Linked DNA regions of Homo sapiens: regions 2, 3 and 4 are each reported to be linked to region 1. Evidence: microRNA targets listed by miRTarBase, many of them from high-throughput screens and not tested one by one. Region 1 holds a microRNA gene; each other region holds the end of a gene's coding sequence.

The links. Region 1 holds the annotated microRNA hsa-miR-6729-3p (UCAUCCCCCUCGCCCUCUCAG, at 2,725-2,745, opposite strand). A microRNA usually pairs through its seed, bases 2 to 8, with sites in the 3' UTR of a target mRNA and lowers its output. Matches are read on the target gene's strand: a 7mer-m8 pairs with bases 2 to 8, a 7mer-A1 pairs with bases 2 to 7 and ends in A, and an 8mer does both.
Region 2: miRTarBase lists FBH1 as a target of hsa-miR-6729-3p. Seed matches in the 3' UTR shown: 7mer-m8 at 1,258-1,264.
Region 3: the mRNA of CLDN10 is a reported target of hsa-miR-6729-3p. Seed matches in the 3' UTR shown: 7mer-m8 at 1,186-1,192.
Region 4: miRTarBase lists STAC2 as a target of hsa-miR-6729-3p. Seed matches in the 3' UTR shown: 7mer-m8 at 833-839.

What each region holds. Positions count from the first base shown.
Region 1 is chr1:12,024,831-12,031,946 of GRCh38, reverse strand. It overlaps MIR6729 (microRNA 6729), which reads right to left and starts at 2,789; the gene lies at 2,725-2,789. It overlaps MIIP (migration and invasion inhibitory protein), which reads right to left. Exons shown (of 10, transcript NM_021933.4): 5 at 2,806-2,914; 6 at 2,666-2,724; 7 at 2,053-2,182; 8 at 1,823-1,919; 9 at 544-681; 10 at 1-225. The coding sequence ends at 139.
Region 2 is chr10:5,936,244-5,943,359 of GRCh38, forward strand. It overlaps FBH1 (F-box DNA helicase 1), which reads left to right. Exons shown (of 21, transcript NM_178150.3): 20 at 213-344; 21 at 867-1,350. The coding sequence ends at 1,037. LOC105376384 (a long non-coding RNA gene) reads right to left here. Exons shown (of 2, transcript NR_188180.1): 2 at 808-1,266. Among named protein-coding and RNA genes, the nearest start is that of IL15RA, 38 kb to the right of the region's middle.
Region 3 is chr13:95,577,523-95,584,638 of GRCh38, forward strand. CLDN10 (claudin 10) reads left to right here. Exons shown (of 5, transcript NM_006984.5): 5 at 378-2,237. The coding sequence ends at 492. It overlaps DZIP1 (DAZ interacting zinc finger protein 1), which reads right to left. Exons shown (of 23, transcript NM_198968.4): 23 at 680-4,791. The coding sequence ends at 4,712. Among named protein-coding and RNA genes, the nearest start is that of CLDN10, 28 kb to the left of the region's middle.
Region 4 is chr17:39,205,794-39,212,909 of GRCh38, reverse strand. STAC2 (SH3 and cysteine rich domain 2) reads left to right here. Exons shown (of 11, transcript NM_198993.5): 11 at 514-2,369. The coding sequence ends at 618. Among named protein-coding and RNA genes, the nearest start is that of RPL19, 9.1 kb to the right of the region's middle. RefSeq lists enhancers at 2,338-3,004, 3,005-3,671, 3,550-3,679, 3,700-3,789, 5,459-5,718 and a silencer at 2,969-3,078.

The DNA.
Region 1 (7,116 bases):
CTTGGGTCCACCCACCTGCCCAACCTAGGACAGCTGGGCCTGAGCTGGGCGGGCAGGGGATTCCATCTCCTGGGTGCGCCTGCCAGAGGGGAGAGGCTGGAGGCGGCGGGAATGCTGTTCTCCCCCAGGAGTCAGTCCTCAGGGCTTCTGCCGTGGGACGTGGGGCCGAGGGACCTGGGGCACTGACCAGGTCGGGGTCGGGGGCAGCATCTGCATTGGTGAGGCCTGGATGGGGAATAGGGAAGTCTCAGGGGGGCCACTTGAAAGGGACAGGTCATCCCCAGTTCCAGCCACATTCCCTCCTGGATCTTGCAGTCAGGGTGGCCTTCCTGGGTGGAGCAGGGCAGGCGGCAGGGAGCAGAGGAGTTCCGAGGGATGGCTAGGGTCAGGGCTGGAGGGCTGGACCCTGCAGAGAGACACTCCCAGGCTCCATCCTCCCCACCTCAATCCTACCCCCCAGGAGGCTCTGCAGTCCCCAGGCCTGCTGCGAGGTCTCTGTCCCTCTAGGGGGCACCCCAGGCTAGGATGCGATCTGGACCGTACCGGGTGAAAAGGGCTGCTGGTGCCGGACAGCTTCTGGTGCTGGGCCTCAGCGGAGACAGAGGACCAGAGGTCCAGGTTCCTGGGGGCTGAGCTTTTCTCAGACTTCGGAGGAAAAATGTCCCAGCCCAGCAGGCAGTGCTGTGGAAGGCAAGGAGTTAAAAGTGCCTGACCTGGGACAAGCTCCCCGCTGACTGGGCACACCCCCATCAGGGAGGAACTGTGCCCCCCATTAGGAAGGAGGCCCCCACCAAGGCAGGGCCTGTGTCTACCCACAAGACTACCCCAGCTCTCCCCTTTCTTATCCTGGCAGATCCAGCCATCCCTGGGGCCCTGAGAGCTGAAATGGGAGGAGGATAGGACGGTGACAGTGACATTCACAGGGTACTTCCTGCTGTAGGCTCTCCAAGCACCTGCATGGATTGCTTCACTCAACAGCCCCACCTCACCACCAACATCCCTGAGGATGGCGCTGTTATGTCCATTTTACGGACCAGCAAACTGACTTTCCTCTGCATCCTTCTCCTCCTCTGACCCCAGCTGCCCTACTCTCAATTTAGGAGTCAGGGGGAGTTGCCACTGGCACCCCATCCCGACCTGGAGACACAGGAAAGGACATTTTTTTTTTTTTTGAGATGGAGTCTCACTCTGTCACCCAGGCTGCAGTGCAGTGGCGAGATCTCAGCTCACTGCAGCCTCTGCCTCCCAGGTTCAAGCGATCCTCCCACCTCAGCCTCCCAAGTAGCTGGGACTACAGTGGAGGCTGCAGTGAGCTGAGACCATGCCAATGCACTCCAGCCTGGGCAGTAAGAACAAAACTCGGTCTCAAAAAAAAAAAAAAAAAAAAAAAGCAGCAGCAGCAGCACAGAGACCTAGGTTCGAATCCCAGCTCCTCCACCAAGGCGCCTCCCCCTCTGCTTCGGTCTCCCCACCTGCAGGGTGGGGGTACAGCAGTGCCTACACTCCTGGCTGCTGTGGGGGCTCCATGAGATAAGCCCCCTAAGGACTGTGCCTGCAGTACACAAAAGCGCAATAAACAGGACCCATTCATGTCATGCCAGCCTGCAGGCAGATCACCCTGGAAGCACCGGGGTACGTGGAGCGGGGGTCCTACCTCCCTTAGGTACAGGTGTGGGTGATGGAAGAGGCCCAGGCTGTGCTCCAGAGACTTGGGCGCTCACCCTTGTCGAGCCCAGTCTCGCTCTGTGACCCTCCCTGGGGATCTGGGCCAGTCTGAGCCAGCCCCGCCCTCATCACCATCCAGCCCCACGTGGCTGCTCACCCGGGGCAGGGCCAGTGTGTCAGAGGCGTCAAAGCTCTTTCGCCGGTGGATGTGGTACCGGTGCGGGGGCTCCAGGATCGACAGCGGGATGCTCACCCTGCGCAGGGGGGCAGTGGGGGACCCCTGAGGAGCCTCCCAGCGGTTGGGGGCCCACGCCCAGGCCCATCTTTTCTTAAAACCAGTGGTTCAGGCTCTGTCCCCCAAGGTGTCCCAATACTCTGGTCACTCACCTGACGTGCGCTGGCTGCGCCAGGGTCCCAGGGCCCTGCTGGTCTCGCGGTGTCCTGCACAGGCGGCAGGGGGTACCGGGATCCACAGGCACCGGGAACAGGCGCCGGTTGACACGGTAACAGTACACGCCTGCGAGGCCCATGAGAAGCCACAGCTCTCCCTGAGCCAGGAACCCAGGTCCCCAGGCTCCGTGCTGCCCTCAGCGGCCCCCAACCACACAAGCTGCCAATCCCTCTGGGAAGCCCTTCGGCCCATTTCCTCCTAACCCCTTTCCTCCCAGAACCTGGGGCCCACGCCCTAAGGGGTGGGGAGGGACATCCTCCTGGGGCCCTCAGGAGCTGGGATGGAGTCCCACCAGCACAGGGGCACTGCTGGGGAGGGTGGGATGGTGCCACACAGGGCAGCCCCTAATTCGGTGGCCAGGCCTTAGCTCACTCCACCCCTACCAGGGCTTGGCCACCCTGTCCAGACTGCAGGCCTCCCTCCATGAGTCTCAACATCTCAGGGGCCTCCCCAGGCCCCAAACCTCAAATGGGACTGCTCTGGGGCAGGGGAGGCCAGGGCAGCGCGAGGCTGGACTACTCAGCGGCCTAGCCGAGGGCCCGCACTCACATTCATGGTCTTCCTCCACGCCGCTGCCACTGCTCTCACGCAGGCCTGGCAACTGGGGTCTGAGAGGGCGAGGGGGATGAGCAGGCCGGGGGATGGAGCCGCTCAGCCGCCCTCGCCCACCCTCGCCCGCCCCTGCTCACTCAGGATGGCTGCAGATACACTCCTCCTTGTTGGTTTCCCGAAACTCCTGCAGCTTGGAGAAGAAGGCCTCAGGCTGGCTGGTGATGGAAGAGCTGGTGTCCAGAGACCCTGGTGTGGGCAAAGCACCAGGCAGCTGACGGGAGAGGGGCTGGGGGCTGCTGTGTGGCCACCGGCCAAGGCTTGGAGAGACGATCAGCCCTGGCACCCCAGGCCACCTGCTTCATCCCTACTGTGCCTCAAACAGGCCAGGAGGGCCCCTCCAGTCACTGGGACTGTTGGTTGGTTTCAGTGTCTGTCTACCCTGATGCATAGCCAACCATCCATGGAAAAAATATCGACAGAGCCCTTATGACAGGGCTAGATGCTGTTTCATGTGCCAGGAACTAGACAGACAAAGCCCCTGGCCTTAATGAGGCTTACACTGTAAGGTGGCAAGAGATGAACTAGCCACCAAAAAAAAAAAAACCCGTGATACAAGACTGAATGCTGATACCTGCCAGAAAGCAAGAGAGCAGCGTCAGAGCCTAGTATGGCCGGGCAGCCATACCAGGGAAGGCCTCTCCGAGTGAGATGACCCTGAGCAGAGACATGGAGAAGCCACAGAGACCTCCCAGGAAGGACATCGCAGGGAGATGAAAGAGCAAGCGCAAAGGCCCCGGGGTGGGCATGTGCATGGTTCAGCTGAGGAACAGCCAGGAGGGGAAAGTGGCAGGAAGGCAGCGAGGGTGGAGGAGATGAGGTTAAGAAGCCCAGGGAGGGTCTGGGGAATGGGAGGGACACAACCACATCAGCCACATATTTTTACAGAACTCCTCCTCTGGCTGCTTCAAGTTGAGGGGAAGCAGAGGCATCGGTTAGGATTCAGCTGGGGAGAGGTAGGGGCAGCCCCCAACTTACCATGATTCGACTTAGGATGTTTCTTTTTTTATTTTTTGAGACAGAATCTCACCGTGTTGCCCAGGGTGCAGTGCAGTGGAGCGACCTCGGCTCACTGCAACCTCTGCCTCCCAGGTTCAAGCGATTCTCATGTCTCAGCCACCTACAGAGCTGGAATTACAGGCGTGCGCCACCACACCCAGCTAATTTTTGTATTTTTAGTAGAGACGGGGTTTCACCATCTTGGCCAGGCTGTTCTCAAACTCCTGGCCTGATCCACCTGCCTCGGCCTCCCAAAGTGCTGGGATTACAGGCGTGAGCCACCGCACCCGGCCTAAACAGTATTTTCAACTTATGTTGGGTGTATCAGGATGTAGCTGGATGGTAAATCCAGCAAGTTTATGGCCTGACCTATTTAGTATTTGGAGTTGCCATTTATGGAGACAGGAAAGACTGCAGGAGGAGCACAGCAGTGGAAATCAGGACCTTGATTTCGGACAGAAGGTTAATAACTTCATGGTGATGTGGAGAAGACAGTGGGATATACAAGTCTGGAATTCGGAGGAGAGGTGCGGGCTAGAGATACAAATGGAGAAGTAGAGAAAGTGTCCAAACACCTCAGCGTTTGGGAGATCATAGAGGGAAGATAGAGAGGAGGAGTCAGAAGACCGAGTCCCAGGCCTAGGGGTGTAGCAGTCAGAACAAGGACCTTTCCTTCCCCAGAAGCCTGGGAAGGAGCACCAACAGAGATGGGGGAGAACCGGGAAGCAAGTGGCTGGAAGTCCAGGGGAGAAAGTGCTTCAGGAGTGACCACTGTGTCCCCTGCTACTCAAAGGAAGATGTGGATGAGGGCTAAGCTGGGGAGTTGGCACCACGGAGGCCACTGATGACCCAACTGAGGGCCATGTTGATGAAATGCTGGGAGCTGAAGCCCGATTTAAGAAATAGTAGTGGAGGCTGGACACAGTGGCTCATGCCTATAATCCCAGCACTTTGGGAGGCCAAGGCGGGCAGATCACTTGACATCGGGAGTTCCAGACCAGACTGGCCAAGATGGCGAAACCCTGTCTCTGGCTAAAAATACAAAAATGAGCTGAGTGTAGTGGTGCATGCCTGTAATCCCAGCTACTTAGGTGGCTGAGACAGGAGAATCACTTGAACCTGGGAGGCGGAGGTTGCAGTGAGCTGAGATCACTGCTCCACTGCACTCCAGCCTGGGTGAAAGAACGAGACTCCATCTCAAAAAAAAAAAAAAAAAGAAAAAGAAAAGGAATAGTAGTGGAGAGAAATTGAAGGCAACGAGGCTAGACAGCCCTTTTGAAGAGGAAGTTTTGTTATCGAGAAAACAGGCAGTCACTGGAAGCAAATGTGGGCTAAAGGTAGGAATGTGGCATCGGGATGAGAAATAACAGACAGCGGCTTTACCCCGACTGGATGTGAGCTGCTGGTAAGATTCTGTCTCACCGGGCCTCAGCCTTCCCATCTGTGAATGGGCACCATGGTGGTGCCTACCTAATAAGCTTATCATGAAGGGCAAAGGAGTCAGCGGGAGGAACAGGAAGCACAGCTCGGAGCGGTGCCTGGTGCAGGGAGCATGAGATACAACCAGCTCCCAGAATGCTTCCTGCACGTTCATGCTCATGCTAAGGGGCAGGATGAGGATGCAGGACAGAGAGGGAGAGGATCACAGGAAGGAAACCCTGGAGGAGCCAGAAGCAGAGGGGCGGAGCACGCTGGAGCAGGGCCAGGGTCCAGGTGGCAGCATGGACAGTCACCTCGGCAAAGGCAGGGGAGCAGAGCGCATGGACCAAGAGCAGGTACTGGGACAGGCGCTTCCATTTTCCCAGAACCAGGAAGGAGGGCAGTGAGCTGAGAGTTCAAGAAGTACTCAAGGGCAGGGCCTGTGTCCCCGCCACCAGTTGCTCTCAGCAACTCCACAGTACACCTGTCTTTGTTTTTTGAGACAGAATCTCACTTTGTCGCCCGGGTTAGAGTGCAGTGGCTTGATCTCTGCTCACTGCAGCCTCCACTTCCTGGATTCAAATGATTCTCCTGCCTCAGCGTCCTGAGTAGCTGGGATTATAGGTGCCCGCCACCACACCTGGCTAATTTTTGTATTTTTAGTAGAGACAGAGTTTCACCACGATGCTCAGGCTGGTCTCGAACTCCTGACCTCAAGTGATTCGCCCACCTCGGCCTCCCAAATTGCTGGGATTACAGGCGTGAGCCACCATGCCTGGTCGTGGCCTCCTTTCTGGTCCTGCCATGCCTGTGGCCACCCCATTATGTGTGTAATCCCAGCACTTTGGGAGGCCAAGGCGGGCAGATCACCTGAGGTCAGGAGTTCGAGACCAGCCTGGCCAACATGGTGAAACCCCGTCTCTACTAAAAATACAAAAATAAGCCAAGCATGGTAGTGGACGTCTGTAATCCCAGCTACCTGGGAGGCTGAGGAAGAATTGCTTGAACCAAGGAAGCGGAGGTTGCAATGAGCAGAAATAACACCACTGGACTTGACTCTGGGCAACAGAGAAAACAAATAAAAATAAAAAAGGAGGAGGCCGCGAGGCTGGAAGAAAGACGGGAGGTCACATCATGGGGCCAGTAGAGGCCAGATCATGCCTCGTAAGTCTAGATAGGGATTTTGGATTTTACAGTAAGTGCTGGGAAAAGCCCATGGGGAGGTTTGAGTAGGGGAGTGACATGATCTGATTCCCATGTTTAAAAATTCCCTCTGGCTGCTATGTCAAAAGTGACAGTGCACAACCATGTCACCAGCAGCATTATTCCCAACAGTCAAGAGATGGAAAGCACCCAAGTGTCCATCCCTGAATGAACAGATAAACAACATGTGGCATCTACACACAACAGAATGTCACTCAGCCTTAAAAAGGAAGGGAATTCCAGCCAGGCACAGCGGCTCACACCTGTAATCCCAGCACTTTGGGAGGCCGAGGCAGGAGAATCACTTGAGTGCAGGAGTTCGAGACCAGCCTGGCCAACACAGTGAAACCCCATCTCTACTAAAAATGCAAAAATTAGCTGGGTGTGGTGGCGCACACCTGTAATACCTGCTACTCGGGAGGCTGAGGCACAAGAACCACTCGAACCCGGGAGGTGAAGGTTGCAGTGAGCCGAGATCACACCACTGCACTCCAGCCTGGGAGACACAGTGCGACTCTCTCTCAAAACAAACAAAAAAAACAACAACAAAAAACAAAAAACAAAAAAAAAAAGGAAGGGAATTCTGACACACAGTACAACATGAATAAATCTTGAGGCCGTTATGTTAAATAAAATAAGCCAGTACAAAAGAACAAAGGCTATATGATTTCACTTATATGAGGTCCCTAGAGGAGTCAAATTCATAGGGACAGAAAGTAGAATGGTGACTGTCCAGGGCTGGAGGGAGGGGGAATGGGAGTAATTATTTA
Region 2 (7,116 bases), not on the chromosome of region 1:
TAAAAAGCAATTGGACTGTCAGTTGGACTGTCGATAGCTTTGGAGGCAGGGAAAAGTTAGAGGAAGTAAGGGAGAACGGGTTAGGCGGGGTTTTTCTCTCTGGGACTTACAGTGCATCTAAAGGGTTCTCACAGAGCCGCCGCTATCAGTGTTTCCAGTAGACCCTAACGGAGGTGTCGCCATGACTCTCTTTCTCGCTCTTTCTTTCTCAGGAGTACTTCTTGCAAGCAGAGCTGACAAGCAACGTCTTAAAAACAGGCGTGGTGCGCTGCTGCGTGGGACAGTGCAACAATGCCATCCCTGTTGACACCGTCCTTACCATGAAGAAGCTGCCCATCACCTATGTACGTCTGCTGTCTGTGGAACTTAATTCAGCCATTTGCATTTTTTGCTTGTGAGCTCTGTGCTTATCTGGGTTGTAGGTGAGGAGATAAGAGAGAGCTGTGTGATCCTTTATTAGGGGCTTTTCATATGAGAGGCACAAGAGGTGTGTGGTCTGTCCCAGGGTCAGAGGTCAGGGCACGTGATGCTGCCTGGCTGTGCTGAAGCCGCAGGTCTGGGAGGCTGGGTTGTGATACACGCTTAGAGAGAGAGCTGTTCCCTGGGGTCCCAGCGCAGCTTTTCTTGGTTCTTTATCTTGACTGGATAAATGACTGTTTCTGAGCTCAGGGAATTTGGGGGTGTTGAGGCCACCTAGTTGGTGGTGCTGTGGGAGGTGTTACTCTGAGGATGTGCACCCCTCTGAAAACATCAGAATCCAAATGCGTTGTCCCTGGGCAGCTGTGATGATAACTCCATGCTTTTTGCTGGAAAATCCATGTTCTTTGGTTGTTCCCCTTAGCTCTCTCTCTTGTCCATCACCACAGAGCAACAGGAAGGAAAACAAGGGGGGCTACCTCTGCCACTCCTGTGCGGAGCAGCGCATCGGGCCCCTGGCGTTCCTGACAGCCTCCCCGGAGCAGGTGCGCGCCATGGAGCGCACTGTGGAGAACATCGTACTGCCCCGGCATGAGGCCCTGCTCTTCCTCGTCTTCTGAGGACAAGGCGCACGTTCTCCGCAGTGCAGAGCAGCTTGCCGAGGACCCCGCGTGAAGAAAGCCAGCGAGGGGGGCTTCTGCTCCCTGAGACTCTGGGTTCACCCACAGCACTTTCTGAGGAAGAGGACACCAGCCCAAGCTGGACCTGCCATTTCTCCACTCCCTACAGACAGCCAGTCTCCACTTGCCTCCCCTCTGGATGTATCTGGTCAGGGAAGTGGGGGATGTTCTTTTGATAAAAAAAAAAAAAAAAATTTATGTATTTAAACTTTTATTACAAGATTTCAATTAAACAGGCACCATAGCACTGGCATACCGCTGTGTGATGTCTGCGTCAGCACTGTCGTTCTGAACCTTCTCTTTTTCCAGCTTACTCTTTCCTACAGCACTGTCACTGTTCACAAGACACAGGAAGCAGAGTATGAGACGTGATGTCTTGGGTGGGAACTGAGGCATCAAAAATGAGACTTTGGCCGGGAGCAGTGGCTCACACCTGTAACCCCAGCACTGAATCCAGCCAAGGCAGGAGGACTGCTGGAGCCCAAGGTTGAGGCTGTGAGCCGTGGTCACCTCACAGCTCACTGTACTCCAGCCTGGGTGACAGCGGGACACTGTCTCAAATAACAATAATGTTTTAAGGAGGTCAGATAAATTACAAGGCTAACAGGATCATAATCTCAGCAAGAAATGACCCCAGATGGGCTGGACCACAGCGCCTGTGGGGCCTGGTGAGGAGGGAACGGATGCGAAGATCAGTGGTTCTCAAAGTGTGGTTCCAGCAAGCAGCGGCAACATCACCTGGGAACTTGTTAGAAATAAAAATGTTCAGTCCCCACACCAGGCCTACAGGATCAGAAACTCCAGGGTTGAGGCCCAGCTGTTCGTACATAACAAGCCTGACAAGTGATGCTCATGCATGCTAAGTTGGGAAACTTCTGCTCTTGATGTTTAGAAGGTAGAATCGGTCGGATTTCTGGAGTACTGGGATCATGATAGGGACACTCAGTGGTAGAGGTCATCTTCACTGAGACAGGGAAAATGGGAGCTATAGCAGGTTTGTGTAAACGCAGTGATCAGTTTGGTTTTCAGCATGTTGAGTGGAACCGTCTAGGAGGCTGTTGGGTGAACACATCTGTCCTGCAGCAAAGGGCCTGGCTGGACCTGGGGACTTTATAGAGTTGTCGGTGTGTAGGTGGTGGTGCAGTTTGAAGGGTTTCGCCGAGTTAATCCAGGAGAGTTTAGACAATGAGAAGAGCAGAGGGCCGAGAAGCAAAGCCGGCGGACACGAGGCTTGGGGTGAAGAGAGGAAGAGGGTTTAAGAAGAGCGACAGCTGATCCAGAGGAGCCTCGTGATGGAGCACCACTGAGCTCCGGAGAGGAGGGAGTTCAGGAAAAGGGGATCTTCAGCATCCAGTGCAGTAAATAGACCAAATAAACAAGGGTGGGCAGGTGTTTAACCAGCACTATCAAGGTCAGTTGACATTAGCTGATCAGTTTCAGTTAGGTGAGAAGCCGACCACTGTGGCCTAAAATGTGAGTGAAAAATTTGAGGGCTAAGAAGTATGTGTTCATTTATGGTTTCTTTCTGAAGCCATACTGTAAGGGCAGTAAAAGTTGTGTGTGTGTGTATGTGTGTGTGTGTTTTAACCCTTAAGGGCAAAGACAACAGGAAGGAGGCAGCAGTGATCCTGGAGGCATCAGGATCATCAAACATCTGAAGATGACCCGGCCCCTAAGATGAAGGCTAGAGGTCAAAACCAAAGAATCAACTTGGAGCAAACTGTCTGTACAGGGAGAAGAAAACATCTAAATATCTTTAACACATTCAGAGAATGGAGGAGGTAGTGCATTCCATAGAGTAGCAGGATAGATATGTATAAAATAATATTTGGGGCCGGGCGCATTGGCTCACGCCTGTAATCCCAGCACTTTGGGAGGCTGAGGCGGGTGGATCATCTGAGATCAGGATTTCGAGACCAGCCTGGGCCAACATGGTGAAACCCTGTACTAAAAATACAAAAATTAGCCGGGTGTAGTGGTATGTGCCTGTAATCCCAGCTACTCAGGAGGCTGAGGCAGGAGGATCTCTTGAACCTGGGACGCAGAGTAAGACTTCGTCTCAAAAAATAAAAATAAAATAAAATTTTGGAGCAAAAAATATGAAAAGAAACCCAGTAGAACTGTTAAAATAATAAGTTGAGAATCTAGAAAGTAGAGCAAAAACAAAGATTGAGAAGTAGTTAGAGGCTGGACGTGGTGGCTCATGCCTGTAATCCCAGCACTTTGGAAGGCTGAGTCAGGTGGATCGCTTTGAGCTCAGGACTTCAAGACCAGCCTGGCCAACATGGCAAAACCCATCTACAAAAAATGACCTGGGTGTGGTGGTGCACGATTGTGATCCCAGCTACTCAGGAGGCTGAGGCTGGAGAATGGCTTGAGCCCGGGAGGTGGAGGTTGCAGTGAGCTGAGATTGTGCCACCACACTCCAGCCTGGGTGACACAGCGAGAGCCTGTCTCAAAAAAAAAAAAAAAAGAAAAAAAAAACTAGGGAACCAATTTAAGAAGTTGAGCATCTGTGAATGGGAATTGCAGGAAGAGAAAATGGACAACAGAGTTAAGGAATTTTTAAATTTAATTTTTTTTCAGACGGAGTCTCTCTCTGCTGCCCAGGCTGGAGTGCAGTGACTTGATCTCGGCTCACTGCAACCTCCACCTCCTGGGTTCAAGCGATTCTCATGCCTCAGCCTCTTGAGTAGCTGGGACTACAGGCACATGCCACCATGCCCGGCTAATTTTTTGTATTTTTAGTAGAGATGGGGTTTCACTGTGTTGGCCAGGATGGTCTCGATTTTCTGACCTCGTGATCTGCCCACCTCGGCCTCCCAAAGTGCTGGGATTACAGGCGTGAGCCACCGCACCTGGCCGAAACATTTTTTTTAATTATGAAAATTACCTGAAACTGATGGTAAGGGTTTCTGGATTGAAATGACTCATTAAATGCCCAGGACAATGGGTGAAAATAGGCCCACATTGGCCGGGCGTGGTGGCTCACACCTGTGATCACAGCACTTTGGGAAGCTGAGGTGGGAGGATTGTTTGAGCCCAGGAGTTCAAGACCAACCTGGGCCACATAGGCAGACCCCATCTCTACAAAAAGTATAAAAAATTAGGTGTGGTGGCGCATGCCTTGTTCCCAGCTACTTGGGAGGCTGGGGCAGGAGGATGGCTTGAGCCTGGGAGGTTGAGGCTGCTGTGAGCCATGATTGCACCACTGACCACCACAGCCTGGGTGACAGAGCGCAGGACGTAGCCTGGGGGGAAAAAGGCAATGATTAGTCCTCTGGAAGGCGACAGGTTGTGTAGGAGAGAACTGTAATTGACCCCCCCCACCACCAGCTCAGTGGAGTGTACCTGCTTTCATGGCCTTCATAAGGGTGGGCGTGTTCTGCAGGTAGGAGCTGTGTGCACATGTGGAGTGAACGAGCCGAATCTTAGCCTCTGCGGCAGGAAGTCAGTCACAGTGCCTGAAACTCAAACATGGAAGCAGAAGCCCATGTGAGCCCATCATTTAGAGATATCTTGGAGATGCATAACACACACCGAGACACTCAGCAGAAAGATTTCTAAAAGTTTCCTTTTGGGAGGGGGAACGGGCAGGTGGAGGAGCTTTTTGGTAGGTGTCTTACATAACTGTTGGCTCTAAACTATGTGTCTGTATGATAGAACCATAAAATACCAGTGGGAGGTGAAGATACGGACACCACGTAGACTAGTTCTCAGAAAGCAAGGCTGGCAAGAGGCAAGAAGTGGATAGGGGATGACGTGGCCTTAGGGAGGGGTTTTTGCTTTTAAAACGAGAGAGGTTTGTGCAGGGTTATGTGTTGAGAGGAAGCAAATTCAGAGAGGAGAGATGGAAGCCAGATGAGAGGGATTGGGACGGGAGAGATGAAGGAGAAAGGGGTACGTTGTAAGTGGTTAGGGAGGAAGTTTAGGTTGCTCTCACCCAATAATTTTCTGGTTTTTTTGAGACAGGGTCTTACTCTGTCACTCAGGCTGGAGTGCAGTGGTGCAGTGACAGTTCACTGTAGCCTTGACCTCCAGGCCCAGGTGACCCTCCCACCTCAGCCCCTCAAGTAGCTGGGACTACAGGTGCATGCCACCATGCCCGGCTAATTTTTGCTTATTTTTTGTAGAGATGAGGTGTCGCTCTGTTGCCCAGGCTGGTCTGAAACTCCTGGGCTCAAGCTGTCCACCTGCCTCAGTCTCCCAAAGTGCTGGGTTTAGCGTTTGGGATGGACATAGAAGGGAATGGAGTGGAAGGTGACGGAAAACACAGGTGTGCCGGGCAGCACCCTCCCAGTTGACATCAAACACCATCCTTTTAGCTGGTATTTTTCCTTTAGCAGCCCAGGCATGAGGGCAGAGACGTCGCATGGTGGACTCAGACACAGCTTAATAAACTTAAGGCAGTGCAGCACCCCCGTGGGACCTTCCTGCCTGGGAAGCTGGTCACTGTCACGCTGCCTGCCCAGCTTCCGTCCTGTAGTGGCATTTGGTCTGTGTCTGGGAGCAACTCACTGTATCACAAAGGGACTTTGACACCCCTAGAATCAGACTATTAGCAATTTAACATGTTTTTCAAGTCTGATCCTTGCCCTTCAGTCCTTCCTAGTCACCCTGAACCCCTGGCTTTAGCAATGTGGGGTACACCGAGAGCCTGGAAGCTGATCACTCTACATTTGCAGTGAGTGGGTGCGGTAGAGACGTCTGAACCGAGGCAGGCAGGGTTCCTCCAGCTCCTTGCCCAGACATGAAGACAGTGCTACACGCACGCCCCTGGCCAAGGCACCTCTGCACAGCTGGGCTGGTGTGGGGGGCAGGGCTCCCTTAGCCGGCAGGGGCTCTCCCTCTGCCTGGCCTACTTAAGGGACAGGTTCTCCATGAGGGCCCAGGAGGTGCCGTCCCCTGCGATCCTCCTCACTGGGGACCTGTGTGTGTTTTATCCCTAGTGGCGTGGGCTGAGAGGTAGGTTAGGTGGAGGGAGGGGGGCTTCCCACTCAAACGCCAAGGTCGCCAGTCGATCACTCCATTTGCTGTCTTCGTGACATCTCAGCCCTGCCATGTCCCACATGCAGCCCCTGATTTCCTTCCGAGCCTGGCTGGCTCCTCCACGCACCCTTCCCCACCTCCAGAAACAGCACCACCATCGGGCTGTGATACTTTTCTTCATGCCAGTTCACTGGGAAGCTCCACGCGGCCTCCAGGGTGCACCACCCACCCGCCCGCGACCCTCCACCGTTCTGCCTCCTGGACCAGTTGTAGTCTATGTTGCTCTGTGCCTCTGCCCTGGCCCAACTCGCTCCCATGTAGAGGGACCTGCAATCTTACAATGAAGACTAACGCCGGTCACCCTCCTGCCTCAACCCTGCAGGGCTCTCCTGTTGCGATGAGGGCGTCAGCCCAAGTTGGACCGCAGCGGAAAGGCTGGCGTTTCCTGTCCATTTCCAGGCTGGCCTCTGTCACCCTAAGCCTGTCTTTTAAAGGAACTCACTGAGGGCCCCAGGAAGCGGCCAGCACAGTGCTGACATCCTGGATTTTTCTTTTCTTCCTTTTTTAAATGTACAATTCAGTGGTTCTGATTTTTTTTTCTTTTCTTTTTTTTTTTTTTTTTTGAGACAGAGCCTCACTCTGTCACCCAGCCTGGAGTGCAGTGGTGAGATCTCCGCTCACTGCAACCTCTGCCTCCCGGGTTCAAGCGATTCTCCTGTCTCAGCCTCCCAAGTAGCTGGAATTACAAGCATATGTGACCACAACCAGCTAATTTTTGTATTTTTGGTAGAGACGGGGTTTCACCATGTCGGCCAGGCTGGTCTTGAACTCCTGACCTCAGGTGATCCACCTGCCTCAGCCTCCCAAAGTGCTGGGATTACAGGCGTGAGCCACTATGCCTGGCCTGAATTTTTTATTTTTTTTAAAGTAATCATTTTCCTAATACATGTCTTCCTAATCTGGACCCCACAGATTAAGAAATGCTTTAGTTTTTAATACCCATGGTATATTCTACTACCACTATGTGAAG
Region 3 (7,116 bases), not on the chromosome of region 1:
AACGTAGAAATAAGGGTCTGAATATGAGGACATGTTCTTCACGTTGGCCTCATCATAATTTTCCTCTAGGTAGGCAGGAATGTTGATGGCCTCTACTAAGTCTCCTAGCTTCCAGGAGGGTGAGTTTTAAAACATGGTTTTGTAAGAGGATAACTGAACAAATGACCAAGTCATGAGTTTCTTCTGCAGAGATTCTCCATCCCACTCAGAAATGACACTGAAAATACTTCTTGGGGCAAGAGGAGAGAAGAAAGCTATCTAAGAAAGAGGAAGATTTACATTTAGATATTGGCAGAGACAGGCCGAAACAGTTTCTTCCCATTTTTGTTTGCCCTATGTGTAGAATAGAATCTACCAAACTATGTTTTACCTTTCAGATACACATACAACGGGGCCACATCTGTCATGTCTTCTCGGACAAAGTATCATGGTGGAGAAGATTTTAAAACAACAAACCCTTCAAAACAGTTTGATAAAAATGCTTATGTCTAAAAGAGCTCGCTGGCAAGCTGCCTCTTGAGTTTGTTATAAAAGCGAACTGTTCACAAAATGATCCCATCAAGGCCCTCCCATAATTAACACTCAAAACTATTTTTAAAATATGCATTTGAAGCATCTGTTGATTGTATGGATGTAAGTGTTCTTACATAGTTAGTTATATACTAATCATTTTCTGTTGTGGCTTTCTATAAAAAATAAACAGTTTATTTACAGGATTTGTAAAATGTTTTCTACATTTATATAGAACATGAAAAGCATTTAGTACCAAAGGTTCAAGAAGTATTCGTACTCTAGCCTTTTTAATCATTCATAGATAGAAGTCTTTGTACCCACTCCTTATGTTTCTTTTCATTCATAAACAGGTGTATAAGGAACAATGTCTTATAAACAGCATGGGGGCAATCTGAGAATATTCCTCAAAAGGTGTCCAGGTTAAATAGACATGTTACTGGCTGCACACAGGCAAATTCTAGTTTGTTTTTTTTAAGTATTCTACAACATTTATTTAAAAAGGTAAATCTTTTTGTTGAAGCAGCAAGTTATCTGGTAGAACTTAACTTCTACAGGATCAGAGAGGATCTTGCTCATTCATGGCCATATCCACATGCCCATGGCCACTCAGTAGATTGTTGAAAAAGCAAAGCCACACCATTCTCTTTGATGTATGCAGAGAGTTACGTAGCAGGGGATGTTCTCTGATTTATTCCACTGGCACCATTAGTGAATATTTAGTTGTTTTCATAAACGATGCTGTGATGAAGACTCATGTACATATTTAGCAAATTTTGGTTTCTTACATGTGCCTGTCATGACTGTAATTCATTATGACTGCTCCAGGAAGGGCTAATGGGGCCAATATATTATTGCCTGTCATGTGGCACATCCATGTTAAGGGGCTGAGGCGTCCCTGGCACGGAATGCAGAGCCCTGAGCTAGGGCATCAGCAGAAGCTGAGATAGAGATATTGGTCATGGTTGACTGAGGAGCCAATTAAAACCTGTTTATGCCTAGTGTTCCATTATTGGAACACTAAGCATGTGGGAGTTATTTATATCCTACTGCTCAAGGTCATCGCCAAGGTGTGATTGGAAAAATTCAAAAAATTGCAACCTCAGGCATAAATGGGTTAAGGACATCCCAAGCCCAAGTGGTACGTGCCTCACTCAGAACTGACGGGCCGAGTTCTATCTAGGTGTGTCTTCCAGAACCTGTTTACGGCTAACTGGATAACTGAGAGACTTGTCATTTCTAAAGACATTTAAGTTGCTCCAGGGATTTCTGAAAAAAGACACAGGCTTCTTCCTAGAGCCAGCCCTATATAACATGCCCACAAGGGCAACAGTTATCACAGTTCATACACACCTTTCATGTCCTGTCTCACTCACTCCTCACAGCCATCCTAGGAGATACATATTGTTTTCATCCTGCATTTACAGAAAAAGAAATGAAAACAGAGAGCTTAAATAATTTGCCACAGTAATGTCGAAACTAGGCCTTTGAACCAAGGCAGTCTAGGGTAAAATATAGTTTCAAAGTATGAATAAGAATTGGTATTTGTGTTATCTTTGAGTAAGAAACTGTCCGATATGAATCACAACGTGGGTGAATGTAGTATTTTCCTGAAGTGTGAAAGACTTAAAAAAAAGAATCACATTGTTCAGAGGTGCTCAATGGAAAGAAAAGGAAATGAACAAGTTTGTTAAAAGATAAAAAATAAAAAAAATTCCATACCTTGATAATCCTTGAAATATCTTTTGCAGAAATACAAATCAACTGAAAGACATGAAGGTAGATTAGGTCCTACAGGCCAGTGTGGGACAGGGTTGTGTAGGTGTGCATTTCAAACACATTTATTATTCAGAAGTGGTGCAGATAACGCTTAGATTACACCGAAGAATTTAGGGAGGGTGGGGGATGAAGGTCTGTTAGTAACCAGAAACACATTAGTTGGGCATCAGTAAGGGGCAACATAAAGGAATGGTTCCCCTCAAAAACGAACAAACCAAATTTTATACAAAAAAATGAAATGCAGCAGGGCGCGATGGCTCACGCCTATAATCCCAGCACTTTGGGAGGACAAGACAGCGGATCATTTGAGGTCAGGAGTTCGAGACCAGTCTGGCCAACATGGTGAAACCTCATCTCTACTAAAAATACAAAAAATTAAGCCAGGCATGGTGGTGGGCACCTGTAATCCCAGCTACTTGGGAGGCTGAGGCAGGAAAATCGCTTGAATCTGGGAGGCGGAGGTTGTAGTGAGCCGAGATGGTGCCACTGCGCTCAAGCCTGGGCAACATAGTGAGACTCTGTCTCAAAAAAAAAAAAAAAAAAAGATACAACTAACCATGTAAGCTAAAGGAGGGGCTCTTAAAAGACACAGATATAGTGACTTAATTTAAATACTGGGTTTACTTAGCAAAAGTTCATTTCCCCAAGCTCTTCTGCTCAGGAATGAAAACATGGCAGACACAAAACATGGAATAGAGACCTGGCTTAAAGTCTCCCCTTGACACTTTGTACTTGTATGGCTTCTGGCAACTTACTTAATAACTCTGTTTCTCACACCTTTAGGATGAGGATTATAACAATAACTACATCGCAAAGTTGTTGTAATTAAATGAATTAGTGCGTGTTCAAAACCAAACCAGACCAAGTGGTTCAATAAATATCTGCTGAATAAATAAATGAATGAACAAAGTGGCACATGGGCCATCTTAGGCTTGGTGTAGTTTTGTAGATTGCCGTTCTCTGTCCTACCACATGAAACTTGGATTCGGCCTTCTGTTCTCTGTCCTACTACATGAAACTTGGATTCAGCCTTCACTAAAGCTTTTAGAAACATACATATAAAGTGAGTATATCTGCATGAAATGGCCCCTATAGGAAGTTGGAAGGATTCTTTTAGAGGGCAGGAATGGGCTACAAGTAAAAAGGATCCCAGGGTGGGTGGAAACAGATAAAGATTTGTTCTAACCATTAGGACAGAATGTCATATGGCATAGCAATCAAGGCCAGATTCTCCCTCTGTAAGACCCCTAATAAGTACAAATTTAACTCAGAATTCATCTCTAATAACACAGCCACAGTCACAGTGATGTAACAGAGGGCTTTACTGAAAAGGTTGACAAATGAAAAGAGATCTAAAACCCAACAAATCTTTTAGTTAAAAGGTTACTTGGAAACAGAATATAGTATAACCAAGTTATAAAAATGCAAAAAACAGCTTATAAGAACTTTCTTTCGACAATGTCATTGTTTAAGAATGTAACTAAATTACTTTTGAGGTATTTCATAATACATGTTGGGTATTTTAAATAGTAAAAAAAAACATACATATGTGAATTCAGTAATGGCTCAAATATTTTCTATTTAGTCTGATAAATTAATTGGCACTTAAAATAACTATACTTTATTCATAAAATATCCAAGATAAAGAATATGCTATATAAAATAACCAACCATTTAATAGTAACATGCTTACAGTGGCTCAAAGCTGAATGTGACAAATGTACTCCAGGAAAATGTATTTAACATTGGACCTAGCTATATTCTAATCCTAAACTTACTTTTTTGGGGTGTGGAGGGGTGGAGTCTTGCTATATTGCCCACGCTGGTCTTGAACTCCTGTGCTCAAGTTATCCTCCCACCTCAGCCTCCCAAGTAGCTGGGATTAAAGGTGAACACCACCACACTCGGATTAAACTTACTTCTATATGAAAAATAACCAGACTAACTTTTAAGGATTAGTGGTTCCACCAATTCAATTTTAAGACTACTAACAGAATTTTATAATATAAACGCCTACGATACGACAGCATACATAAGAAAAATATTTTTTAAAGTTTTAGTAATTCAAACCAAAACATGCTGTAAGTTTAAAAAAAATTCACTAAAAAATTAGTTGAAAAAAATACACTTAACACTAGAGTACCTTTCTGAAGAAAAAACTTTTTATGACTTCAATGACATGTTATTTTTAAGCAGCAGCGGAAGTCTTAAACACCTTTACATGCTTCGAAATACTGTTGATGATCTGATTTTCAATACTGTATTGGGTGCCATTAAAGAGACCATTGTTCTTTGAATCAGTCTCTGTGTTGCTGTGGGAAACACGGTAAGGCAGAAGCACTAGAATCATGGAGGCAAATTACTGAAACACTGTGATACTGAAATACTGCTGGCTTCTGGAATAATCTTCTGACATGTGGAATTAGACATCTGAAGTGTCGCTCCAATCAGTCACAGTTACTAAGCTGCTTTTTAATGTGCTTGATTCATTTTCTTGAAGTCCTGTAAGTGGTGGGTAGAGGCAGAAGAGAAGGCCTCAATGGTTAAACAAGCACATTGTCAAGTCTATAAAAATCCATAATTTCATATTGTCATTAATCACTCAGTGTCTAAATCTGTTCATGAATCCTCATCTCCCAACCCTCATGAGCTATGTATAGGACGCCACTTTAAAATCCAACTGTGAACTGGTCGCATCTCTAGGATACACTCAGGACCCTTGGATGCAAGCTTCTGCCCTGCAGCCTACAAACAGCAGGGACCACATCCTGCTTCCCACTCCTTCCCCAGCATTCAGCTCAGGGCCTGGATGTTGAAGGTGCTCAGTACATTTGTGTTGTAGTTACTGACTCTGAGTGAATAGATGGTAAAGAAAGAAGGATGAAATTAGCAAGCCAAGTAAAGTGTTAAAAACATATTTTCTAGGTAGATAGGATTAACAACGAAGTCAATTTTAAAATGCCATGATTTTGAGCCAGTGAAATAGAGTGCAGAGAATTCCACTCAAGTTTGACTCTAGAAATGTGTTCCTCCAGGGGCACAGGTTTATGATGTTGGAGGAAAGAGACAGGAGATGTCCTTAGGGCATCCTCTTGGCCCTGTAAAGAGTCACTCTAATGCCAACAGGTCTCCTGGTTTTCAATAATTAGAGTTGATGCTTAGCACAGATAACTGATGCCAGTTATGCAACAGCTATGTTATAACTGGACAATGTGAGAGAAAAGGTAGCGTGAAGGAGACAGGCAGCAACATCTTATCTTACAAAGGGGCGAGAGGCTGCTGAAAATGGAAAGAGCAAGGGTGGAGACATGCAGGTATTAACTTAAAATTACAGTCTGGGTGCAGTGGCTGACACCTGTAATCCCAACAGTTTGGGAGGCTGGGGTGGGAGGATCATTTGAGCCCAGGAGTTTGACACCAGCCTGGGCAAGCTGGTGAGACCCCATCTCTTAAAAAAAAAAAAAAAGTAATAAAATTATAAGTAGGAGTACAAAAACAGTGAAGAAGGCGTGAGAGGTGCGGTGGGTGGTGAAAATGAGCCAAGTCCCCATCTGTCTTTGCAGGACATCAACAGTTAATATCTAAAGTCAATGAATCAACAAAGAGTGGTTTAAGGCCATTACTGAGAGGCACAGAGCTACCACTAATGAAGGTGGTGCGATGGCATAGAGAAGCCTTCTGAACAACTCAGCTTTCAACATGTGCAAGAATTACTTTGACAAAAAAATTACAATTTTCTAATTTAAAAAAAAATTACTAAGTTATTGGGCTTATCTAGGCTCTAGATTGGGGGATATGAAAATCATTTCAAGTAATTATCTCATAGTATTTCATCCCACTGACTACACGGCTACAAGAGAAACCTCCCTTGGGAGAAAATGAAGAAAAATATTTAATAGGGAAACAGACTAATACAGAGAGACTGCCAGAAGAGTGGTCTCATTCAGGTATATGATCAGAAATTTTAATTCCTAAAAGGCATCTTCATGAAGAGAATACGTGTATAGACATTTTTAAAAATAATATAAAAGCTGGGCATGGTGGTGCACATCTGTAGTCACAGCTACTCAGGAGACTGAGGCAGAAGGATTGCTTGAGCCCAGGAGTTTGAATCCAGCCTAGGCAACATAGTGAGACCCCATATCCTAAAAAAAATAAAAAAATAATAATAATAAATTTTTTTTGAGACAGAGTCTCACTCTTTTGCCAGGCTGGAGTGCAGTGGCGTGATCTCAGCTCACTGCAACCTCCACTTCCCAGGTTCAAGCAATTCTCCTGCCTTAGCCTCCCAAGTAGCTAGGACTACAGGCGCGCACCACCATGCCCAACTAATTTTTGTATTTTTAGCAGAGACAGCGTTTCACCATGTTGGCCAGGATGGTCTCAATCTCTTGACCTCGTGATCTGCCCGCCTTGGCCTCCCAAAGTGCTGGGATTACAGGCGTGAGCCACTGCGCCTGGCCAAAAAAAAAAAAAAAATAAAAGAATACAAACAATTTGGGGGCCACGAGCGGTGGCCCATGCCTGTAATCCCAGCACTCTGGGAGGCCGAAGTGGGAGGACTGCCTCAGTTACTGGGGAGGCTGAGGTGGGAGGGCTGTTTGAGCCTAGAAGGTTAAGGTTGCAGTGAGCCATGATGGCCTGGGTGACAATAACACCGTTTCAAAAACAAAAAATAAAAATAAAAATAAATTAAAAATTTAAAGACTAAAGATTAGTCCTATAATTAAATAAAAATAACAAGTAAATATATATGAATCAGTGAGTTATGCATATCCAATCCTTATTTAAATAACATAAAGAAAGCACTGACAGCTTTTTTGTCTG
Region 4 (7,116 bases), not on the chromosome of region 1:
CTGCAGGAGGAGGCTGATCTTGGCAGTTGAGGGGAAAGCGGGTTAGAAAGAAAGGGTTGCAGGGCCCTCCTACCAGCCCCTGCTGGGGAATTTGGGCTGGTGACCAACAGAGACAGGAGACTGAATGACATTAGAGGGAGCTTGGGTTAGCGCAGGAGCACTGGATTCAGAGTCTAAAGCTCAGGTTTGAATGCTAGCTCTGGCTTTTTGTGTAATTTGAGGCAAGTCCTTTTCCCTCCACCTCCTCTGTGATGGGGGTGAGGCAGGGCAGTACAGCGGCTAATCTCCAAGGTCAGCCCTGAAGTGCTGCTGGGTGTCTGCTGACGTGCTGGTCTTGCTGCTGAGGCCTCTACACTCCTGGGATCTGGTCCCATCACTCCAGCAAAGGGCTCCATCCACATCTGACACTGGTCCCATCATCCCCCAGGGTGGGTCCCCTGGGGGCCATGGGCAGGACTCAGGGCCAGGGCTGCAGGCCATGCCAGGCCTCAGCTCCATGTCTCTCTGGCTCAGATCTGCGTGGGCGTGGGCAGAAGCAAGGATGCTGACGGCTTCATCCGCGTCAGCAGTGGCAAGAAGCGGGGCCTGGTGCCAGTCGACGCCCTGACTGAGATCTGAGAGGAGCCAAGGGAACCCAGATGACACCCTTGCCCATGCCTGGACCTTGCTTCTGGCCAGGGAGGGGATCAGGCCCCCTTGTCCACTCCATACCCTTCCTCCCTCTGTCCCTCTCCTAGGTGCCACTTACCGTGGCTTAGGAGCCTTTTGTACTGGGGAAGATTTTATTTCTTGGGTGGGGTGCCCTGAGTGGGTTGATCCTCTGGGACTTGGCGGGGATGGGGTGGGGTGGGAGGGAATGAGGAAGCTACAGGTAGGTCCACCCAACGCCCAGGCACCCCAGTCTACTTGCTGGGCTGAGTCCAGCCCTGGGGAAGATTCCTGGGGAATTTATTTGCTGCTTCTCCCAGCCTTCCCCTGCCCACACCACCTGCGCATGCCTGGCACACCCCTCTCCCCACAGAGCCTCTGCTTGGGTCTATGTGTGTGTGACCGTGCATCTGCTCCTTTGCAAGTGGGGTCTTGGGAGCAGGCCTTTTTGTGTCCTCGGCCCTCCACCCTTGGTGGGGAGGGGACCCAGGACCATAGGAAGGTCCTGAGTCCACCTCCTGGTCTCCACCTCTGTCATTCCGTCAATTCTCAGGAAAGTTTTGCAGGAATCTCTCCCGTTACTTGAAACCTGGGCGGACAGATGAGGGGAAGGCTGAGGTCCCTGGAAGGTGTAACAAATCAGAGACTATCTGTTCAAGTAGAAAACCCAAGAGCTGGCCAGGTGTGGTGGCTCATGCCTGTAATCCCAGCACTTTGGGAGGCTGAGGTGGGCAGATCACCTGAGGTCAGGAGTTCAAGACCAGCCTGGCCAACATGGTGAAACCCCGTCTCTACTAAAAGTACGAAACTTAGCCAGGCATGATGGGGGTCTGCCTGTAATGCCAGCTACTCCAGAGGCTGAGGCAAGAGAATCACTTGAACCCGGGAGGCGGAGGTTTCAGTGAGCCGAGATTGCACCATTGCACCCCAGCCTGGGCAACAGAGCGAGACTCCGTCTCAAAAAAAAAAAAAGAAAGAAAGAAAAGGAAACCCAAGAGCTGCCTGGACACACGGAAACCCAACTGAGAACAAAATCCTGGCCCGTGCTTGGTCAAAGCAAACCCATTTCACTGTCAGGACCCCCGGTCACACAGGAACCACCCGCCAGGGGAGCCTGTGACTGTCAGTTCCTGTCCCAGGCTTTGCCCGGCCGCCCCAGGAACCCAACCCTCTGGGCTGACCTTTCTCCTGCTTCTCTCCAGGCTCTGCAGGGGACAGGGCAGGTGCTGCAGGAGCCCCTTTGCTGGCTTTATCTGCTCCCTTGTTCTGGACACAGAGCCCTGGGAAAAAGAGGGGGTGGAAGACAGACAAGGAAGGTGGAATGTTCTGTTTTGGCCACCAGGAAATGGGGTGGGGTGGGCATACACAGAGAGGACCCCTCTCTTAATACAGCTGCTTTTCTCGGTGCCAACCTCCCTCCCCCAAGCTCAGATCCTCCTCTTATGCCCTTGATTGTGCCAGCCCATGCCACCCCCATCCTGGGCACAGTTACACCCTCCCATGCAGTGGGAGAAACACAGACCCTCGTACCCAAAGGCCCCTGCCCCACTTCTCCCCCACAAAGCGGGGTCTCAAGCCACACTGCCCTGTTTGCTGCCATGAGGCCCCCCCCCCCAGCAATATCCCAGGGGCGGGCCCAATGCCCACTGTACATGAGGCTGCATGATGGGTCTGGGGCCTTGCTGATTCCCCAGACCCCTAATTAAATGTTTCTTGTCCCAGCCCATCTGCTCTGTGTCTCTCACTGGGACAGAGGAAGGAAAGGGGCAGGGAAGTGGGGAGTGGGGTCTGGGGATGCTGAGAGGGGCAAGGCTGAGGGTGGAAGAATTCCTCCGTCTCTGAAAGGAGGGGTGCTGGGCAGGCGGCAACATGGCAGGGGTCCCAGGCCTCATCCCTTTCCTCCAGCAGCCCGAGGAGGGTGGGGTCTGGGGAGAGCCAAAAGGGGACCTGAGGAAAGTGGGAGGAGGTCTGGGGACGCTGGAGGGAAACGGCTTGGGGCTGCGGTCACTTTCCGCCTCCATGTGCACCTGAGTCGCGCAGGGGCGGACATGCTCCTGCGCGCCAGGGCCGTCGAGGCCGATCTTGCCCACCCAGAGGTGCCCTCCGAGACCGGGCGTGCCGGGGGTCTGGGAGGGCTCAGTACCCATCCGAGGTCAGCCTCGTCCCCGCAGTCCCCCAAGCCGGAGACAGAAACGCTGGCGGCGGGGACAGTCGTGGCCCGTGGGTCCCCGGGATGACTCAGTCGCCCCTGTCATCGGAGCCCAGCATGGAGGGGCCGCACCCCTCCCGCCGCCGCGCTCGCCGCCCACCGCTCTGGCAGAGCTGCCTCCTTCCCCTCCGCCTGCCCAGCCGCGTCATCGCCACGGCGAGCACGTCCTGTGCTATTTATAGGCGGAGGGGAGCGGGGCGCCAAGGAGAGGCGGGCTGCGGGGGTGCTGGGGCACTGCTGGCGCTGCCCGGATGCAGAGTGGGGGCTGCCTTTCCTGATGAGCGCCCCCTCCTCCACCGGTTCCGGTTTACAGCCCCCGCCCCCTGAGCCAGGTAGGCCAGGTGGGCCCAGACCTTGGGTCCCCTCCTTGAGCTTTCTTTGGGCTCCTTGACTTGAGGAAGGCCCTGGAGGTTGGGGGTCGAGAGAGCCGGGAAAGGAGGGTGACCCTCCCCCTCCTAGGATCCCCAGCCCTGGGAGTGGAAGAAGGGGTCACAAGACCAGTGTGAATGCTTAAAGAGAGGGAACTCATAAATAGGCACCTACTGTGCCCAGGGAACCGTGCCAGGAACTTGATGTTACTTAATCCTTTCCAGGATCCTGTGAGGCGAGTGGGGGTGTCCTCCTCTCACAGGGAAGAACTGAGGCACAGCCAGGTTAGGTGGCTTATCTAAGGTCACACAGATTACCCAGCTCAACACTGCCCTCTTTATACATGGGGAAACTGAGGCCTGGAGTGGGCTAATGACTTGTCCAGGGTCACACAGCAAAATGAGTGATCAAGCCAGTCTTGGAAACCGCGGCTTTTTCTTCTCCTTTCAGCTCTTTCCCTCCCCTGCCCTGGCTTCCTCAATGCCTTAAACTAACAAAATGGAGACAGAGACACCCTGAGACGCTGGGCCAGAGGCTCCAGGGATCAAGAGCCTGAGAGCCTTGCAGCCACGCCTTATGCACACCCAGCTGTGTGTCTGCCACCAGCCGGCAGCTGGCCTGGACGCCCATCCCCCTCCAGCCTATTTGCCGCACTGCTGAGCACAGCAGCTTTTTTGGGTGGCTGAACCCCATGCAGCATGCTCACAGCCTAGGGCCTGGGAACAGTTGGTGCCCCACTGTAGCCTTTGCCCTCCTCTGTGCCCACTCTGGGGGTGGACGGACCAGCAACACTACTGGTCTGGGGCAAAGGGTGCCTAGGAAGCTACTGGTGATCCCAAATCCCACCATTTGGCTCTGTTGTCTCTGACCCACATGTGCCCTTCATGCCCCCCTACACAGAAGCTGAGCTTCACCTGGCTTGTACTGTGTGGGATGAAGGTTCCCTGGACTTCAGGGAGATGCAGAAAGAGGAGGGAGTCTGGAGAGATGGATGCTGGAGGTGGGGAGAAGAGAGAATGAGCCCCTCGGTGCAACCCTACTCATTTTGCCAGCACTGCTTCCTTTGGCCCCTTCAACCTTCTTCACCCCCATTCTTACCCGCTGTCCACCCAATGCCTGGGCAGGTGGGGGCACCTGCTGAGGAGTGCAAGGAAGGCAGCCTCAGCCTCCCTGTGCTTTGCAGGAAGCCAGCCTAGGTTAGCCCTGCCGTAGCCTCAGAGGCAGTACTGGAAGGAGGCCAGGCCCCTCTGTACCCTCTTCTCCAGCTCACAGCCCTGCAGTAGCAGCTGTGCTCAGTGCCTCTGCTGCACCCCAATCTGAATCACACCCTCCCACGTCGGGAGACTGCAGCCTGGGAATCAGAGTCAGGCGCCAGTGTTCGTGCAGCACTGAGGTTCTGCACACCCCACTTGTGTCTGCCACCAGCCAGTAGCCAGCCTAGCCCCCCCACCCCCGGCCTGTTTGCCGCACTGCTGAGCACAGCAGAAGAGTCACTGGCTCCTCTGGGTCTCTGTTTCCTCCTCTAGAAAATCAAGCATTGGGTTTGCTCAGGGATTCTTTACGTGGTAAGGGTGTGGGTCACGAGCTCCTTGAAAGGGTGTGGAATTATATGATAGGGACACTTGTATGCTCTTGAAAGAAAAAACATTTTTTTTTACAATTTTTTTTTTTTCCCCTGAGATGGAGTCTCTCTCTGTCACCCAGGCTGGAGTGCAGTGGCTCAATCTCGGCTCACTGCAACCTTTGCCTCCTGGGTTCAAGTGATTCTCCTGCCTCAGCCTCCCGAATACCTGGAATTACAGGCGCGTGCCACCACGCCTGGCTAATTTTTGTATTTTTAGTAGAGCCAGGGTTTCACCATGTTGACCAGGCTGGTCTCTAACTCTTGACCTCAAATTATACACCCGCCTCGGCCTCCCAAAGTGCTGGGTTTACGAGCGTGAGCCACCGCGCCCAGCCAACAAATTATTTTTGATATTTTTGTTTTAGAGACAGGGACTTATTATGTTGCCCAGGCTGGCATGCAGTGTCTATTCACAGGCACCGTCATAGCTCACTGCAGCCCCAAACTCCTGGGCTCACGTAGCCCTTCCCAGTCAGCCTCCAGAATAACTGGGACTACAGGCTCACGCCAATGTGCCTGACAGGACACATCTTTTCTTTTTTCTTTTTCCATAAGTAAGGAAACAAGAGGACACATCTTTTAATCAGATTTTCTCAAGGCTACAGGACCCGGAAAAGATCCAGCAGTTACTTTAGGGGTTCTTTCTGCTTGGGGCTCCTGTGGGAGTGGATCCCTCCTAGGCACTGGCCTGGGAAGAGGTTGGAGGACCATGGTGGAAAGAGGCCAACTTCAGGCCTGGGGTGAGGTTAGGAAAGAAGTGGGGAAACCCAAGGCCTTCCAAGAGGTGGGTTCCTACAACTTCCTAACCCATCTCTTTCTCCCGCCCCCGAGAACAGACAAAAACAAAACCAAAAAAAAACTCCAGTGAGGCAGCAGCTGACACCTGCATTGACCTGTGAGCGAGTAGCACCATCTTCTGGTCCAGGGTGGAAACCAGCTTCTGCGCTGCAGGCTCTGGAATCCTGGGAGGGTCTCATATTGGGTTACCTCATTCTCCTTCCTGACATTTTTTTTTTTTTGGTTGGGGGTTGGGGGGAAGGGTCTGGCTCTGTCACCAAGGCTGGAGTGCAGTGGTGCAATCTTGGCTCACTGCAGCTTCCACCTTTCGGGTTCAGGTGATCCTACCACCTCAGCCTCCTGAGTAGCTGGGACTACAGGGGTGCACCACCATGCCCGGCTAATTTTTGTATTTTCTGTAGAGATGGGTTTTCGCCATGTTGCCCAGGCTAGTCTCAAACTCCTGGACTCAAGCAGTTCTCCCGCTCGGCCTCCAAAAGTGCTGGGATTACAGGCGTGAGCCACCACACCCAGCTTCTCCTTCCTGTCATCTCTCTACTGCATGGAGGGGTTGGGGGTGGGCAGTCTCCACTACCCCTCCTCCTCTGGGCCAGGCCTGGGAAGCAGGTGTCCCACACACCAAGCTGGGAGCTTGGCCAAGACCCTTCCCTTTCTAGGCCTCAGCTTCCCCACTTCAAAGGGCAAGAGCTAATGGGTGAAACACGCTGGCCGCTCCAGTGGCCAGGGGGATCCAGAAGCCAGTGTCCTCTCATCCCAGGCTGTGAGGCATACGATGGGGGGTCCTCTGGACATTTTCTTTTTCTTGAGATGGAGTTTCACTCTTATTGCCCAGGCTGGAGTGCAATGGCTCTCGGCTCACTGCAATCTCTGTCTCCCGGTTCAAGCGATTCTCCTGCCTCAGCCTCCCAAGTGGCTGGCATTACAGGCATGTGCCACCATGTCTAGCTTATTTTGTATTTTTAGTAAAGATGGGTTTTCTTCACGTTGGTCAGGCTGGTCTCGAACTCCCGACCTCAGATGATCTGTCCACCTCGGCCTACCAAAGTGCTGGGATTACAGGCGTGAGCCACTGTGCCCGGCTTCCTTGGGACATTTCTAAGTGTGGGCTTCCCTGCCTTCTGCTACCCACCTGCCCATCCTGCCCAGAATGGCATGAGGACGCCAGAGGCAGAGCTAGGAGTCTGCTGGCCCTGACACCATAGCCAACCTGCCATTCCCACTCAGGTCTTGCCCTTTTCCATCAGCCCATTACATGCCCTGAAAGGCACGCCAGCTCATCACTCCAACAGAAGAGTTCCTCAGAAAAGAGCTGGGGGGCCAGGCACAGAGGCGGGTGGATCACCTGAGGTCAGGCGCTCAAGACCAGCCTGACCAACATGGCGAAACCCCGTCTCTACTAAGAAATACAAAAATTAGGGGGCCGGGCGCGGTGGCTCACGCCTGTAATCCCAGCACTTTGGGAGGCCGA